Linked DNA regions of Homo sapiens: region 1 is linked to region 2. A link means that fine-mapping ties the variant in region 2 to the expression of a gene that starts in the linked region. Tissue or cell type: whole blood. Region 2 holds a variant in brackets; the other region holds the start of a gene. All regions are shown on one strand. Distances are between the middles of the regions.

Evidence for each region. PIP is the estimated chance that this variant, and not a neighbour inherited with it, causes the effect.
Region 1: it holds the start of SEMA3C, and the variant in region 2 is fine-mapped to the expression of SEMA3C in whole blood (TOPMed, PIP above 0.99).

The regions. Positions count from the first base shown.
Region 1 is chr7:80,914,444-80,922,554 of GRCh38, reverse strand. It overlaps SEMA3C (semaphorin 3C), which reads left to right and starts at 3,504. Exons shown (of 18, transcript NM_006379.5): 1 at 3,504-3,727; 2 at 5,736-5,876. The coding sequence starts at 5,774. RefSeq lists a silencer at 3,238-3,367 and an enhancer at 3,915-3,984.
Region 2 is chr7:80,705,130-80,713,241 of GRCh38, reverse strand. No RefSeq gene overlaps it. Among named protein-coding and RNA genes, the nearest start is that of CD36, 71 kb to the right of the region's middle. The variant GA/A (reference allele first, on the strand shown) is at 4,975.

The DNA.
Region 1 (8,111 bases), 210 kb before region 2:
ATTGAAAAATTAGAAATGATTTGATAGAGGAAATATTAAAGCCTATTTGCTGTGCAGGTAGCAGTTTCACACACAGATTTCTAGACCAGACCTGTTTGACCGGCTTGGTCTCAGAGCTGCTAATGTAACCCAAGGAGACGTAAGGCTGATGTAAATAAAGTAAGTAACCATTGGAAGTTGAGACTTTCCAAAGATACAGTTCAGGAAACTTAAAAGGATGGCATATGGAAGTTGAGTGAAGGAGAAAGAGAGGGAAGTAGAAAAGAGGAGAAAAATGTTAAGCAAAAAAGGTAAGAGGAAGTATTGAAACTTATTGAAAAACCTGAGACATTACGGCAATCACGCTTGAGTTTCTCTTCCTATTCTGATATTTACTACCCATTTGACTTTGGGCAAACCTTCAACGTTCTCTCATTGAAAATTGTAACTTCATTAAAGAATGCTATGCAGATAATAAGCAAAGTACCTCGCAAATACACAATCTATTTTCTATTACAAATATCAGTTTTTATGACTAAATAATAAGACAATTTTTAACCTCTGAATGATTAATATTCTCTGGTTAGGGTAAAGTTTATTTACATGACTCATCTGTATAATAGGGAAAAATCTGTTTTCTTTAAATTTGAAATAAGATAATGTATAGCTGCAGAAACTCCTGGAGAAAAGTATGTAACTCAACATCGGTGCTAGAGTTTTAAGTTAAATAGCATTCCTCAGGACCATCAAAAACATAAAATATTAAAAATATGCCCACTACACCTTGGCAGGCAGAGACACTTCAGTGTGTAAGATACTGCACCATTTCTAAAACGTCTTAATAAAAGTTATCCTAAGTATTTTAGTTTGGCCGCTCGTCTGAAACGTTTTGCTGGGTGCAAACATTGTAATTAGTGCTCTCTAAATTTAGTTGTGCCACTACTCCTGTAGATCCATTTAGTGTCCCCCTTACCGAAAACAGCGTTCTCAATTAGCTGTTGTTTTCCACTTGTAAGGACAGTCAAAGCTGAAGTCTTAAAAAAGTGGTAGTGCCCAGAAATGTTTCTTAGGCAAGTCTTGTTTTGTCAAGGTGTTTTAAGCAGTGTGGGGAAATGTGGGCAGAGATTAATCTTAGGGGCTTCTAGTGCCACTGTTAAAATTCCACTCTGTGGCCTAAGTCTCTGGCAAGCATGAGCACTGTGTCCTTGCGCTTGAATCTATCTTGGCTAAAGCCTATCAGTATTTTTATGATTCATTTTGAGGTGTGGCCAACTGTAAACGTCTCAGAGCTAAGCAAATACCATTAAATCCCAGGAGCACATTGAAAAGAGGTTTATTTGAGCAATATTGAGGGAATTTCGGCACAAATTTCATGGGCTGTGATTAAATCTAAGCTATTTGTCAAGGCCTCCAAACCCCTGAATGTGTAACAGATTGAGCTAATTCATTGGTGTTTGTAAATTGAGTTTGGAATTAAGCTCCTTTGTAAATACACCGTTTGAGATGCATTTCATCTTGCAACTCTTTATCGTGGTTTTCTCAAACTTAAAATGTATAAACGAATTCCATCTTACGTGAATTTGCTGATCAATTTCTAACAGCTCCACATTTCTAAATTAATTTAATCCACACACTCATCTTTCTAATGATTTATTCTTCTCCCTGCTTAATATATAAATGCCGAATGAGATATCAGAAGGAGGATAATAGTGGAGAGTATATAACCTGGATCTTACTCAGTTTCAGAAGTATTTCAGAGAAGCACGCACAGTGCTTATTCACATTGACATCTGGATTTTAATATTGTCAGTTTTTGGGGGGTTAAATTCCTTATTACAAATTTATGTCAAGGATCTTCTCACGCATCATCACAAAAAATAATTTTAACTGTTGTTACTATATTAATTTTTTGACGTTTGGAGATAATATTAGCCCTGGAATAGTATTTTTGAACTCATAAATTTGCATTATTTGACTTGATCCTTCGTTCCTTGACTATGCAGCGTGAGTCTGAGACACGTGTATGTTTACTGAACACAAGAGGTGGGCCCCAGACACATGAAAGATGTGTCTCACTCACCTCTTCCTCCTACCTGAGATTTCATTCAACTTTCCCACTGAACAATGATTTTGCACCCCCAGAGGGGTTTTCTATGATACAGTTTATAAGAATTTAATGATTGTTTCATTATGTGAATTGTCAGGTATAAGGTGGAGATATTACACTCCACGTTCCTTCTGTAGAGTGACATCTGCTGGGCTGTGCCCCACAGTGATTTTAAGCAAGTGCCTGCTTGTTTTATGGGGATCAAAGCTCATTTCTCCCGATGTTTAAACATCTAGTTTATTGTGGTCCGGAGAAGTAATTTTCACTTAAACATCAAAGTCAGTTCCAGAGTTTAACGAGTGTACCTGAAAGTAATGCTGGAAAAATACCTCTGATGTATTTCTGTAGATGTGTGGTTATGGCAATCTGTTGGCATAACTCAGAACAGCCTCTCCACATAGAATTGTCAAATAATTTCTTCGTGTAATTATGTTTGGGAGTATGGTTGGGGACAACGTACTGGATATGAGTCAACGTGGAGGGGTCAACAGAATTACTGCTTTCAGGGCATTAAGGAAACTCAATAGGAAACAATACCCATTAAAAGGATACACTTGTGCAACAAGATTGTCGTTTATCTTGACCTGTTTTAGAAAACACGCAACAGAGGCCCGGCGCGGTGGCTCTCGGCACTTTGGGCGGCTGAGGCGGGCGGACCATTAGGTCAAGAGATCCAGACCATCCTGGCCCTGTCTCTACTAAAAATACAAAAATTAGCTGGGCGTGGTGGTGGGAGCCTGTAGTCCCAGCTATTCAGGAGGCTGAGGCAGGAGAATCGCTTGAACCCGGGAGGCGGAGGTTGCAGTGAGCCATGATCACACCACTGCACTGCACTCCAGCCTGGCGACAGAGTGAGATTCCCTCTCCAAAAACAAAACAAAAAACAAAAAACAAAAAACAAAAAAAAAACGCAGCAGAATAAGGACAAAACTCACGTCCTTTTAAAAACGCATCTCTTTGCCTTAAAAGGCTGCAGTGATCCTTCCCTGGCAAAAATAAAAAACCACAACTGCTTTGCACTTTGATATTTACGGCCAGGCAAAGCCTGTGTAAGTCTTCGAGAGCCGCCGGCAACAAAAACCGTGGAGCGCACCCAGCAAGTTGCTCACTCCGCCGCGGACTGCGAAAGGAGCAGGGTTGCGGAGCTAGGGCTCCAGCCTGCGGCCGCGCATTCTTGCGTCTGGCCAGCCGCGAGCTCTAAGGGTCGGCCCCGCCCGGTCCGCCCCCGCGGCTCCCTGCCAGGCTCTCGCGGGCGCGCTCGGGGTGGGGCCTCGCGGCTGGCGGAGATGCGGCCGGGGCTGCGCGGTGGTGATGCGAGCCTGCAGGGCGGCGCGCCGGGGCAGCCGGAGCCGCGCGCCGCGGCGCTGTAATCGGACACCAAGAGCGCTCGCCCCCGGCCTCCGGCCACTTTCCATTCACTCCGAGGTGCTTGATTGAGCGACGCGGAGAAGAGCTCCGGGTGCCGCGGCACTGCAGCGCTGAGATTCCTTTACAAAGAAACTCAGAGGACCGGGAAGAAAGAATTTCACCTTTGCGACGTGCTAGAAAATAAGGTCGTCTGGGAAAAGGACTGGAGACACAAGCGCATCCAACCCCGGTAGCAAACTGATGACTTTTCCGTGCTGATTTCTTTCAACCTCGGTAAGCTAAATTGGTCATTTTCCGCATTACAGATTTAGCAAAGTATAACTTTTTTGGCCTGTATATTGATTTTTCATACATTGGTATGCTCAAGCCTGGACATTTTCTTAAGAACACACGCGGTTTGTCAGGGAAGCTTTCCCCTTGCTGAGAGCCCTGCTCGAGTTGTTTCTTTAGGCGGTGACACCTGCGGAGAGTTTCAAGTTGAGTATTACAGTGCCTTCAAAGGCAAAATTGCTCCAGAGGAGATAAGAGAATTCTTTTCTTAATGTGTTGTTAGTTTGCGATCAGCAGAAGTGAAAACACCAAGAGGAACGTCTGTGTCTGAGTTAAAGGGAAGAAGTTGTAAGATACTGTTGGGGAGGCGGGGGTGTATTTAAGACACTTGGCTTTCAGTCTTTCACTCCTCATCACTAGGTGGGATGTAAATCAAATTGCCCTGTAGACTATCTTCGTTTCACCTGCCATTGTATCACCAGTATTCTTTGCAATTGGTTGTATATGTACTTTTGGGAGAAACATATAAGGTAAGATACCAATATGTAAAAAAAATGTGTAAATAATATCAACTTGCTCAGTAAACATAACAAAGGTTAGGCATATTAATAGTTTTTTTCTTTTGGCTTTAACTATGAAGTCAACAGAACCAAGGGGTAAATTACTGAGGGAAAGTCACCCATAAAATCAGTTTCTTTCTAAGTTAATTTAGGGATGACAGGGTGAAGAGGTTGTGGAAGCAGGAAGAAACTGTTTCTTTTGAAAATTACCAACACAAACATCTCTAGAGTTTCCTCCATCTGTGTGGTAAAAGAAGCGTACAATTTCATTTCTAACTCTCATAACATATGCACCACCTAGGAAATCTACTTACAATTTTTGTTTAAAATTGCATATTCCATTTAATTCTTTTTATTCTGTATTAATGAAGCTGTCTTTTTCAGTTGTTAGTGGTTCTTACAAAGAATTTAATAATTTTGACTATGAAATTTTAATTTGAAAAGCCAAATAATGAAGATCAGCATTGTTGTAACCTGTAAAAATAAATTTCTTTACTGGACTCTTGGGTCACTTTATTGTGTAATTATGGTAGAAGCAAAATGATTGTGTTTCTTTAATGGTCCTGAGTTTATTTTACATGATGTAGCCACTAGAGCTCCTGTAGGTTTATGGTAACACATTATCTGGTCTTCCTTGGGATTCAGATATTAGTTAATAGCATGTACCAATTTTATATCTATAGTTTGAAGCAGTGACACCTGTCTCTTTGATTTATCTTTGGGAATTTTGACAGCCCACATTCTGGTTGATTTATTTAAAATATGCATTGGTGGATACATGGCTCACTGGATTGCTCACCACTAGGTCATTGGTTTGAATTTGGCACTAGTCCATGGTTACTTCAACTGCATCATTTAACAACTGCCTGTTGGTCATCTGGATAAAATGGCAGATAACTGATTCCAGTGACTTCAGTGATCCAGGATTGAGCACACATAGATTTATGTAAGGAAACACCACTTCCAGAGACAATTACTCCAAAAGAGCTAATGACTATTGAAGTGAGTAGGTACACATGAATGCTCATGTGAGATTTTGCTGCTGCTGTTACGTTAGTGGGGGGAAAGAGTTCTCATCCAGTAATATTCTTTTAGCTCAATTCTATTCAAGTCTTTTTAATGTAATGGATTTCTAGAGAGAAGATCCGTTAAAATATTGGGCTTTCCTTTGGGTATCAGTGTTTTTCTTCACTGCTTTGTTCTGTTTTGATGGTAGCATCAATTTGCTGGAAGATGAAAGTTTCTCTTGTTGCAAAGACTTCCAGACACAAATGAATCAAATCCACATTTTCACATCTGAGAAGCAAAGACACAGCACCTCCTACTGTTTGCATTACTGTAAAAGTTCAGATGGTTCTTTTGTGAATAGGGTGTTTTGTCTAGATTGCTGTTTTTTCCTACTCCTAAAATGTGAAATGAGATATAACAAACATGTTGTCTCTCTCTTAAAGGTATTTTCCCTTGGATATTAACTTGCATATCTGAAGAAATGGCATTCCGGACAATTTGCGTGTTGGTTGGAGTATTTATTTGTTCTATCTGTGTGAAAGGATCTTCCCAGCCCCAAGCAAGAGTTTATTTAACATTTGATGGTAAGAGAGTTGATAAACACTCTGGGAAAAATGTTATTTTAAGTTTTGTTATCTTCCTTATCCAGATTCAGAAATTAAGAGTATAAATATTACTGGATATTAATTTTAAAAATATTTACTGGGCTGCGTTTTGGAGGACAATAGCTATTTTAAATGATTGGTTAATAGACAAAGATCCTCTGTTGGATTTGAGGTATTTATGAAAATGCTTATAATATATGCTGCTTTTTGTAAAATAATTCTTCTGTGCTTGCCTGTGTACTCACAGAGGAGATGGGCACGAGCTCAAAGCCTAGCATCTTTGATCTTACTGTTCACCTGGTAATGTTAAGAAATTGCCCCTTTGTGCTAATCCTCAGCAGCAGAGAGAGCTATGCAGGTTCAATTACTAAAAAATTCTCCCAATTAATTTTTTGGGCATTAGTCTCAAAACTGGTTACTCCGTGTGTTGTTCTAATGGTGTTTCTTCTTTTTCCACAAGGATTTCCTGAGATTGGCATAGTCCCCTAATTAATTGAAAAGGACCTAAAAGAATAATTGGAAATATGCTTTTGATGGTTGTTGTATACAAATGTTCTCAGAAGCTTAGGGAAATGGGTGTGATTTCAGATTTTCACATACATAAAAGGTGCAAGGTCTTCTGAGGGAATGGTTTGCATGAGCTTTAATGTATATAGTTCAAAGGACTTACAGATGAATGAATTTGGTTAGTCAAGTAACCCATACTAATTGGACAGATGGAGCAAGACATGGATGAGGAACACCATCCTGCCAATCAAGGTCATTTATAATTTTATTACTTCTTTCAACTCTGCATAAACTTTAGTGTCATTGCAAGTACTTTTTCTTTCATTTGATAAACAATATATTCTCAGACCTTTCTATAGCAGAGTGTCTCTGAAACTTTGTCTCAAATTCCTTTTTTTTTTTTTTTTTTTGAGACAGTGTCTCACGCTGTCACCAGGTTGGAGTGCAGTGACACGATCTCGGCTCACTGCAGTCTCCACCTCCCAGGTTCAAGCCATTCTCCTTCCTCAGCCTACCCAGTAGCTGGGATTACAGGTGCGTGCCACCACACCGAGCTAATTTTTGTATTTTTAGTAGAGACGGAGTTTCACCATGTTGGCCAGGATGGTCTCGATCTCCTGACCTTGTGATCTGCCCGCCTCCGCCTCCCGAGGTGAGCCACCACGCCTGGCCTCAAATTTCAAATAGCAGAATGACTGACACTTGCCAGTCAAATGGCTGTCCTTTTTTTCTTTTTAAGTCACCAGTGCTTTCCCCAAGGTTGTCATAAGCACCGAAGGAGCCATATTTGGAACTTAGAATGTGTGAGCTTCTAATTGCTTCCTTAGCCTCCATGCAAGGCATTTCCCCTTAAAACCCATAGCTATGCAGTTAAGTTGTGAAGAATGGAAAAACAGACCCTTTGAGGTATCCTTTTTAGCCCCTTAATTACTAAAGCATCTTACAGACTACCCACACTTTTCCTCCCAAGTTAGAACTATGAAATACGTTTTCAAATAAAAGAGAAAGGGCATTAAGAAGTAGTGCAATTTCCCCTCTATTTTCTATATTTCTCCTAGTATATATAGAGATGGAGTGACCTAATAGATTAGATGTCTCTACCTGCTTTCTTTTCCATTACATGAAAATTAATCCAAACTAATGTAAATATCAACAAAAAGTGTGTTACTAGAGATAATGAACCAATTCTGTATTTGAAAAAGCAATTGCAATTCATATTTTACAGAAGGAAATTACATAGTATAATCTTTTAGAACCAGACTTCAGAACTGTGTAAGACAGTGACAGCTATGCTATACAGTGACTAGAAGTAATGATGGGATTTAAAATAATATATGCCTAATATTTTAAATGCACTCAAACTTAAAACAGATTCTTGCAGAATAAGACTTGCCTTGATTTGTAACTTATGTAGAATATGACATGAGTTGTTGATCTCAAAGTTCTATAATTCCTGATATTTTGTTCTTCTCAGGTGTATTACTGGTACTCTTAGGAAGTGAGAGAAAAACAGAGCAAATAATCAGAGAGATAGAAAATCACTTGTTTTGAATACTGTTTAAAAGAGATGTATCAACAGTGAGAATACATCTAATAAAATTGCACGATTGGTAACTCAATAATTTTAAACATTCCTACAATGAACTACATAGACAAGTTATAGGGAAAGTATCAGGCGAAAACAGTTGTCAAAATGTACAAATTTTA
Region 2 (8,112 bases):
CCAATGTCTGGCACTCCCTAGTGAGATGAACCCAGTACCTCAGATGGAAATGCAGAAATCACCCGTCTTCTGCGTCGCTCACGCTGGGAGCTGTAGACTGGAGCTGTTCCTATTTGGCCATCTTGGCTCCTCCCCCTGCTTTTGACAATTTAAAATTCAGTCACATCCAAAGTAAAATTGGCCTTGCAAAGTTAGAAAGGAAGAAAAAAATCAAACAACCCCATCAAAAAGTGGGCAAAGGATATGAACAGACACTTCTCAAAAGAAGACATTTATGCAGCCAACAGACACATGAAAAAAGGTCATCATCACTGGCTATCAGAGAAATGCAAATCAAAACCACAATGAGATACCATCTCACACCAGTTAGAATGACGATCAGTAAAAGTCAGGAAACAACAGATGCTGGAGAGGATGTGGAGAAATAGGAACACTTTTACACTGTTGGTGGGAAGGTAAACTAGTTCAACCATTGTGGAAGACAGTGGCGATTCTTCAAGGATCTAGAACTAGAAATACCATTTGACCCAGCCATCCCATTACTGGGTATATACCCAAAGGATTATAAATCATGCTGCTATAAAGACACATGCACACATATGTTTATTGTGGCACTATTCAAAATAGCAAAGACCTGAAACCAACCCAAATGTCCAACAATGATAGACTGGATTAAGAAAATGTGGCACATATACACCATGGAATACTATGCAGCCATTAAAAAAGGATGAGTTCATGTCTTTTGTAGAGACATGAATGAAGCTGGAAACCGTCATTCTCAGTAAACTATTGCAAGGACAGAAAACCAAACTCCGCATGTTCTCACTCATAGGTGGGAATTGAACAATGAGAACACTTGGACACAGGGTGGGGAACATCACACACCGGGGCCTGTTGTGGGGTGGGGGGAGGGGAGAGGGATAGCATTAGGAGGTATACCTAATGTAAATGACGAGTTAATGGGTGCAGCGCACCAACATGGCACATATATACATATGTAACAAACCTGCATGTTGTGCACCTGTAACCCTAGAACTTAAAGTATAATAATAAAAATAAAAAATAAAGCTTCTTTATTGCCTTAAAATTCTTTTACCTCACTTTTCAATCCTCTGACAAGATAAAGCTCTTTGAGATACATTTAGTATTGTTACCCCTATTGAATAATGGTTAAAATAAAGAAAATGGGAGTGACCTAGTACAATGGAATAAGGAATAAAAATTAGGAATTGTAAATTTTGGCTGTGTACGGCAGGAGGCTTGGGGATTTAAGATTTAGTTGGCAGGATACAGTTAGGTCCACTGCACTTAGTTCAGGGATGGCAAAAACATGATTAGTCCAACCCAAATGTGAATCCCAGTTGGCAACAAGAGATATCCAGGAATTCTGGGCCTGACTGCTGATTCTCCTAGTTCCTCTTCCAGATGCAAGACCACTAGGGAGTAGCGACTCAAGAAGATGACACAGAGGTTGGCAGTATTGCATGTGATTCAGGGGAAGAAAGGGTTCATGTGGGTTTGCCTAACAATGAAGTGTGTGATGTGATGACTACACCACAGGGGGACCAAGTGTGAGCAGAGAGCCAACGGGTGCCCCAGGGATTTTGAGGAGCCAATCAGAGTTAATTGTGCATATAAGAAGTTAGATCACTGTAAGAATTCATTTGTAAACTAGAGCTGCTTGGTAATAACAAACATGCATTTACAACAGACAAGACTGCAGCATTTATTATACTTTCAGCATTTGAAAATGCTTGCTATTAACATAAAAAGTACAGCTCTGACTAGAAATTATCAGAATTATATGGTACAATTATTAAAGTTGTATTCTTGCAGTACCTCCCATATTAATAAGATAATATTAAGATATTAAGAAGACAATATTATCTTCTTTGGCACACAGCTAGAAAATTCTCTTGTTCTAATTCTCCAATAGTTTCTAGGCATTTGTTCTTATGGAGCAATTTAAAATCCATAAAACTTTATTGAGAAATTACTGTGTACAAGCAAACATGCCAGACAATAAACGGGAGATAACCATGTGGAAAGAACTCTTCCCTCCAGGAGTTTATCCTCAATGAAGTGCAATTCGATTATGATGTAAGCCAATTGAGGTTCTGAAATAATTCACTTTGCTTAACACATATTTTTTATTTTTTGTAGAAACCGTATATTTAACATGTACAACATGATGTTTTAATACATATATGGAATAAAATAAGCAAATTAACATATTCATTTCCTCACTTACTTTATTATTGTCATGAGAGCACCTGAAATGTTCTCTTAGAAAATTTCCATGTGTCTGGTTTATTAATTTTGCATAATGTCCTCCAGGTTCATCCATGTTGTTGTAAGTGGCAGAATTTCCTTTCTTAAGGCTGCATAATACCTCATTTTGTGTGTGTGTGTGTGTATGTTATATAAGTTACATATGTTATATACAAGTTATATATATATACACACACACAAGTTTATATATACACACACACACACACACACACACAAAATGAGGTATTATGTAGCCTTAAACTTATATAAGTTTTATTTATATTCATTACATACTGTAATTTTGTTATCCATTCACCTGTCTACAAAACTTAGGTTGTTTTCTTGTTTTGCCTAACATGAATAATACTACAATGAACACGGGAGTGCAGAATATCACTCTGAGGTACTGAGTTCATTTCCTCTGGTATATACCCAGATGGGGACTTGCTGGATCATATGGTAGTTCTATTAATTGTTAATTTTTTATTTTTGATGAATCTACATGCTTTTTCCCATAATTGTATTCCCCTAAGAGCATGCAAAAGTTCCCTTTTCTCCACATTCTCGCCAGCACTTGTTATCTCTTATCTTTTCATTAACAGCCATCTTAACAGGTGTGAGGTGATAGCTCACTGTAGTTTTGCTGTGCATGTCCCTGATGATTAGTGATGTTGAGAACCTTTACATATACTTGTTGGCCATTTTTGTCTCCTTTGAAAAAATGTCTACTCAGATCCTTTGTCCATTTTTTACTTTTTAATTAGATTGCTTTTCTTTTTTCTTTTGTTCTTTTTTTTGGCTACTGAATTGTGTAGGCTCTTTATATGTTGGGGATGTTAAATCCTTATCAGATACATGGCTTGCAATATTTTCTTTCAATCTCTTGACTGTCTTTCCATTTTGGTACTTGTTTCCTTTTTTGTGTAGAAGCTTTTTAGTTTGGTGGAGTCCCACTTTATTGTTACTTTTGTACCCTGAGCTTTTGGTAGGATATCCCAAATATCATTGCCCAGACCAAGATCAAGAAGCTTTTAGCCTATGTTTTCTTCTAGGATTTTTATGGTTTCAGGTCTGATGTTTAAGTCTTCAATCCATTTCGAGTTGAGTGTGTGTGTGTGTGTGTGTGTGTGTGTGTGTGTGTGTGTGTGTGTTTTATAAGATAAAGATTCAATACTGATTGTATGTTCTCAATAGAAATATTCTGATGTTGGTCAAAGATATGAAAAAGATGCTAATTCTGGTAAATCCATCTATTTTGGTGACCTATGCCAGGCCAGAAAAGCTTTTAAGTTGAGAAGGGACATTTACACAAGCATAGCAGTATATCAGATCACACAGAGTGTTCATCAAAAAAGAACTGAAACTTGACTGGTTTTTAAATAAATTGAGATATTGTGACTGAACCTCAAATTAGGCTCATTTTCTATGTCCTTGAGATATCAAACTTCTGTTATCTGTAAGGAGATTAACAATCTTGAATAGTTTTTTTTTTTCCCACCTGGTAAAATGCCACTGTAGGTAGTCATTTCAATCAAAATGATTAAGGTGGACTCATCCCAGAAAAGACAGGGTCACTGCACACGTTTGTCTCAGTGATAGGTTATCCTGAGTGATTATAGTATCAGAATACATTATGATTCCAAAGTAGCTTTGCCTTCTGTTTTAGTCCGTTCTTAAACTGCAATAAAGAAACACCCGAGACTGGGTAATTTATAAAGGAAAGCAGTTTAATTGACTCACAGTTCCACATGGCTGGGGAGGCCTCAGGAAACTTGCAATCATGGAGGAAGGTGAAGAGGAAGCAAGGACATTCTTCACATGGTGGCAGGAGAGATCGTGTGTATAGAAGGAACTGTCAGACCCTTATAAAACCATCAGATCTTGTGAGAACTCAGTATCATGAGAACAGCATGGGGACACTGCCTCCACGATCCAATCATCTCCCACCAGTTCTCTCCTATGATGCATGGGGATTATGGAGACAATTCAAGACAAGATTTGGATGGGGACAAAAACCTAATCATATCACCTTCATAACATCCAGAAGAAAATATAGGAAGGAAACTCAATTGAGGAAGCTCCTGGAATAGATATAGTTGTGTCCATAAAAGATACTACTCAACCTGATCAGAAAATGAACCTTGAAATTCATCAAGAGATCACCGCCCTTCTTGACTGCAGCTTTCAAAGTACTAAAATGCCATGAAGCACTGGCCACGTTAAGTCTATTTCTGGTGATTGTCCTGAGATCTCTAGAAGTTCAAGTCCAAATTCCTCCTATCTGGTGCCACAAGAAAGAAAAGGAGGGACTCTTACCAACCCCTAGGTTGAATGATCTCTGTTTACATACTACCTCACCTCAGTCACAATGGAGGATCCAATTTTACGTTGATTATGAGTGGAGAGGAAAAACAAAGGTATTAGAAACTGCAGCTTCACTTGGGTAAGGGTGAGACGGACACAGTGTGGGAGCATACTCTTGTATGGTTGTGCTAAGTTGGGTTTTTAGGCTTTCTAACGCTCATCAAGATAGTCTGCTTGCAGATAAGATAAAGTGTGCTCACTTAGGTTGCCCTTAAAGAGGAACAGTTAGGAGACTTTCTCCATGTCACAATATCCTGGATACCTTCTTTTAGTGTTTTAATTTACATATATGATGAAAATTAGTTGATGACTTCCCTTTTGTGGCCATACTTCTTGAAA[GA/A]GTTTCATATATGTTTTAAATACTTAACACTTCACTCACTCTTTAGCAATCTGGTTTCCTTGACCATGACTCTACTGCAATTGCTTCCCTCCACAGTCTCTCACAAGGATGGGGGCTGCTCATCACCAATGCTTCTCCCTAAAGCACACTCTTCTCTTACCTTTTGTGACTGTTCTCCTCTTCCTCTTCCTGGCATTCTTTCTAAGTCCTTTGGAAATGCTGCTTCTTCCAGCCCCATCTTTAAAGTTAACGCTCCTTGGGACTTTGTTTAGACTGTTTTATTATTTATTTATTTATTTTTTTATGCTATATTCTTCCCCTGCATGATTTCATTCATGTCCATGGCTTCAGTTATGTCTTTATCCAGTTGTCTCTTTCTCTCTTGAGTTATACTTCTACATTCTATATGCACCTAGCAGTACTTCTAAGGCTGAACACATCACTTCACCCAGCCAAAACCATGTCTACTTCTGTGTTGCCTATGTCATGTTACCCAACTATCTAATCTATCTAAATATCTAATCTATCTAAATAAAAATCCTCTTATATCCTACAAATCGATCAACAAGTCCTGTCAATTCAACTCCCTCAATGTTTCTTGATTACTGTCCACTTTCACTGTGAACTTCTACTGCCTTTGTTCTGATCACTAATATATTTTATGGAACTTGTTATAACATCCTTCAGTAAATGTGTTACACAATAGCCAGAATGATCTTTTAAATATTATCTGGTTGTGTCATCCTCCTTCCTAAAACCCCCAATGTTTACACCTCATCCTCAACAAGTTCAGTGATTCTTAGCCTGATTTACAGAATCCTTCCTTGTTCACCCCACTGTTCATCTCAGCTTCATTCTTGCCAGTCCCTAACTTGTGCTGGAAACTACAGCCATATGAAACTTGTTTTTGCTCCTCCAGTGAATCTCACTCCTCTCTAAGTCTTTTCATACTATGTTAATTCTGCTTAGAATTCCCTCTGATTTGGTTTCATTAACAACTATTTTTTCTGATGTTTCCTGTTTTTTTTTTTTTTTCAATTTTCTCAGTCTGATTTTTCCACAGGCTTCTTGCCCTTCCCTGATTATAACAGTGTATCACAATTTCCTACTTGCTTGTTTGTATCCCCACTAAATTGAAAGCAACTTAAGTTGATCTTATTCACAGCTGGGTAAGGGAAGGAGCCATCCACTAATATAAAGAATAAAAAGAACAGGATAAAGAAAAGTAATTCATTTTACACATTTCTATACTCCATTATGCTTCTGGTGTATTTTTTTATGCTTCTACTTTTATATTAACTTTTTATGGAAAACTAAAAACAGCACAATTTTTATTGAGCAAAGTTATTAAGTTGGGCCTCAAAGCCTAAAAAAGAATAAGAAATAACTGTTTGGAATAGGAATTGTGACTTTCAGAAGGAACAGTAAGAAATGTTGAGATTTTACTTGATGGCCTGAATACAATTTGGTATCAATCATATTTCCCCATAGATCACATACAACTTTTGAAAGTGTTGGGGACTTAAGAACACCAAGGAGAAGCCGATACATGTCCTTTAAATATAAAAGCTGAGAAAGGAAAATCAGTATGCAGATGCGTTGTTAGAGCCCATAGGAGAACACTGCTGTTTCTCTTAATTAGAAAATTCAAGAGAGTTCTTATTTTGGAATATCTTTGTTTTTGTAATTGTGATATTTTAAAAATTTGTAAATATAACAATCTCTTTTGTGTTTCAGCTTGGTATCACTCATATTACCAAGTCTTAAATGCCCAAGTTTGAAAAAAATATTTTAATAAATTTTATTGTCTATATTTAAGGTATGTAACATGATATGGGATACATAGAGACAGTGAAATGGTTACTAGAGTGAAGCAAATTAACATATCCATCATCTCACATAGTTACCCTTTTTTCAGTGTGTGTGGCAAGTGCAGCTAACATCTACTCATTTAGCACAATTTCTGAATACAGTATATTATTATTACTATTATTATTATTATTATTTGAGATGGAGTCTCACTCTGTCACCCAGGCTGGAATGTAGTGGCCCAATGTCAGTTCACTGCAACCTCTGCCTCCCGGGTTCAAGCGATTCTCCTGCCTCAGCCTGCAGCACAGGCGTGCACCACTATGCCTAGCTAATTTTTGTGTTTTGAGTAAAGATGGGGTTTCACCATGTTGGCTAGGCTGGTAGTAAACTCCTGACCTCAGGTGATCTGCCTGCCTTGGCCTCTCAAAGTGCTGGGGTTACAGGCGTGAGCCAATATATTAACTCTAAACCTCATCTGCATTAGATTGCTAGACTTGTTTACCCTAATATCTGCTACTCTGTATCCTCTAACTTACATCTCCCCATTGCCCACCCCTGCCTTCCCCCACCCCTGGTAACTACATTGAGAAAATATTTCTGAACATAGCCTTGGAAACTATTTACATGTATTATTTCCTGCTGGGTTGTATTATATCTTAATATGCTCAAATAAGCCATTTATCTCCTCTATTAAGTTTCTTTTGTGTTTGTCTTATCTCACTAACTAGAAAATTACTTCCTTGAAGACTTCCTTATTTATACATCTCTCATTTCTCCTAAAACAAATAGGATAGTTCCAGACACATAGCAGATATTCAATAAATATGCTTTGATTAAGTTAATACATTTGGAATCTTTCTTCTGTTTAATGTTTGCAGTGTTAATCACCATCTGTGGTTCCATTAAATCATTATATAATATGAAAAGCAAGCACACTACTCTGATGATGCTCTCCTTTAGGTCTGTGCCTCACTAAAATTCAGAGACTTGTGGGTCAGTTTAGTTGTAACCCTGTACACACACACACACACACACACACACACACACACTTTCTCTCTCTCTCTCTCTCTCTCAGGTAGGGCAACACTGTAAACACACTCTCTTTCTCTTTTTCTCTCTCTCTCTCTCTCTCTCTCTTAGGTGGGGCAACCCTGTACACACACACGTGCACTCTCTCTCTCTCTCTCTCATACACACTTAATGGGCTGGCTGAAGGTGAAGGGTAAAACTGATGTTGATTTTCTTTAGGTATAAAATATTGCCCCTATTGCCCCTTCCACGTCTGATGCAATAGACCCACAAGTCTATTCTTCAGACATGATATG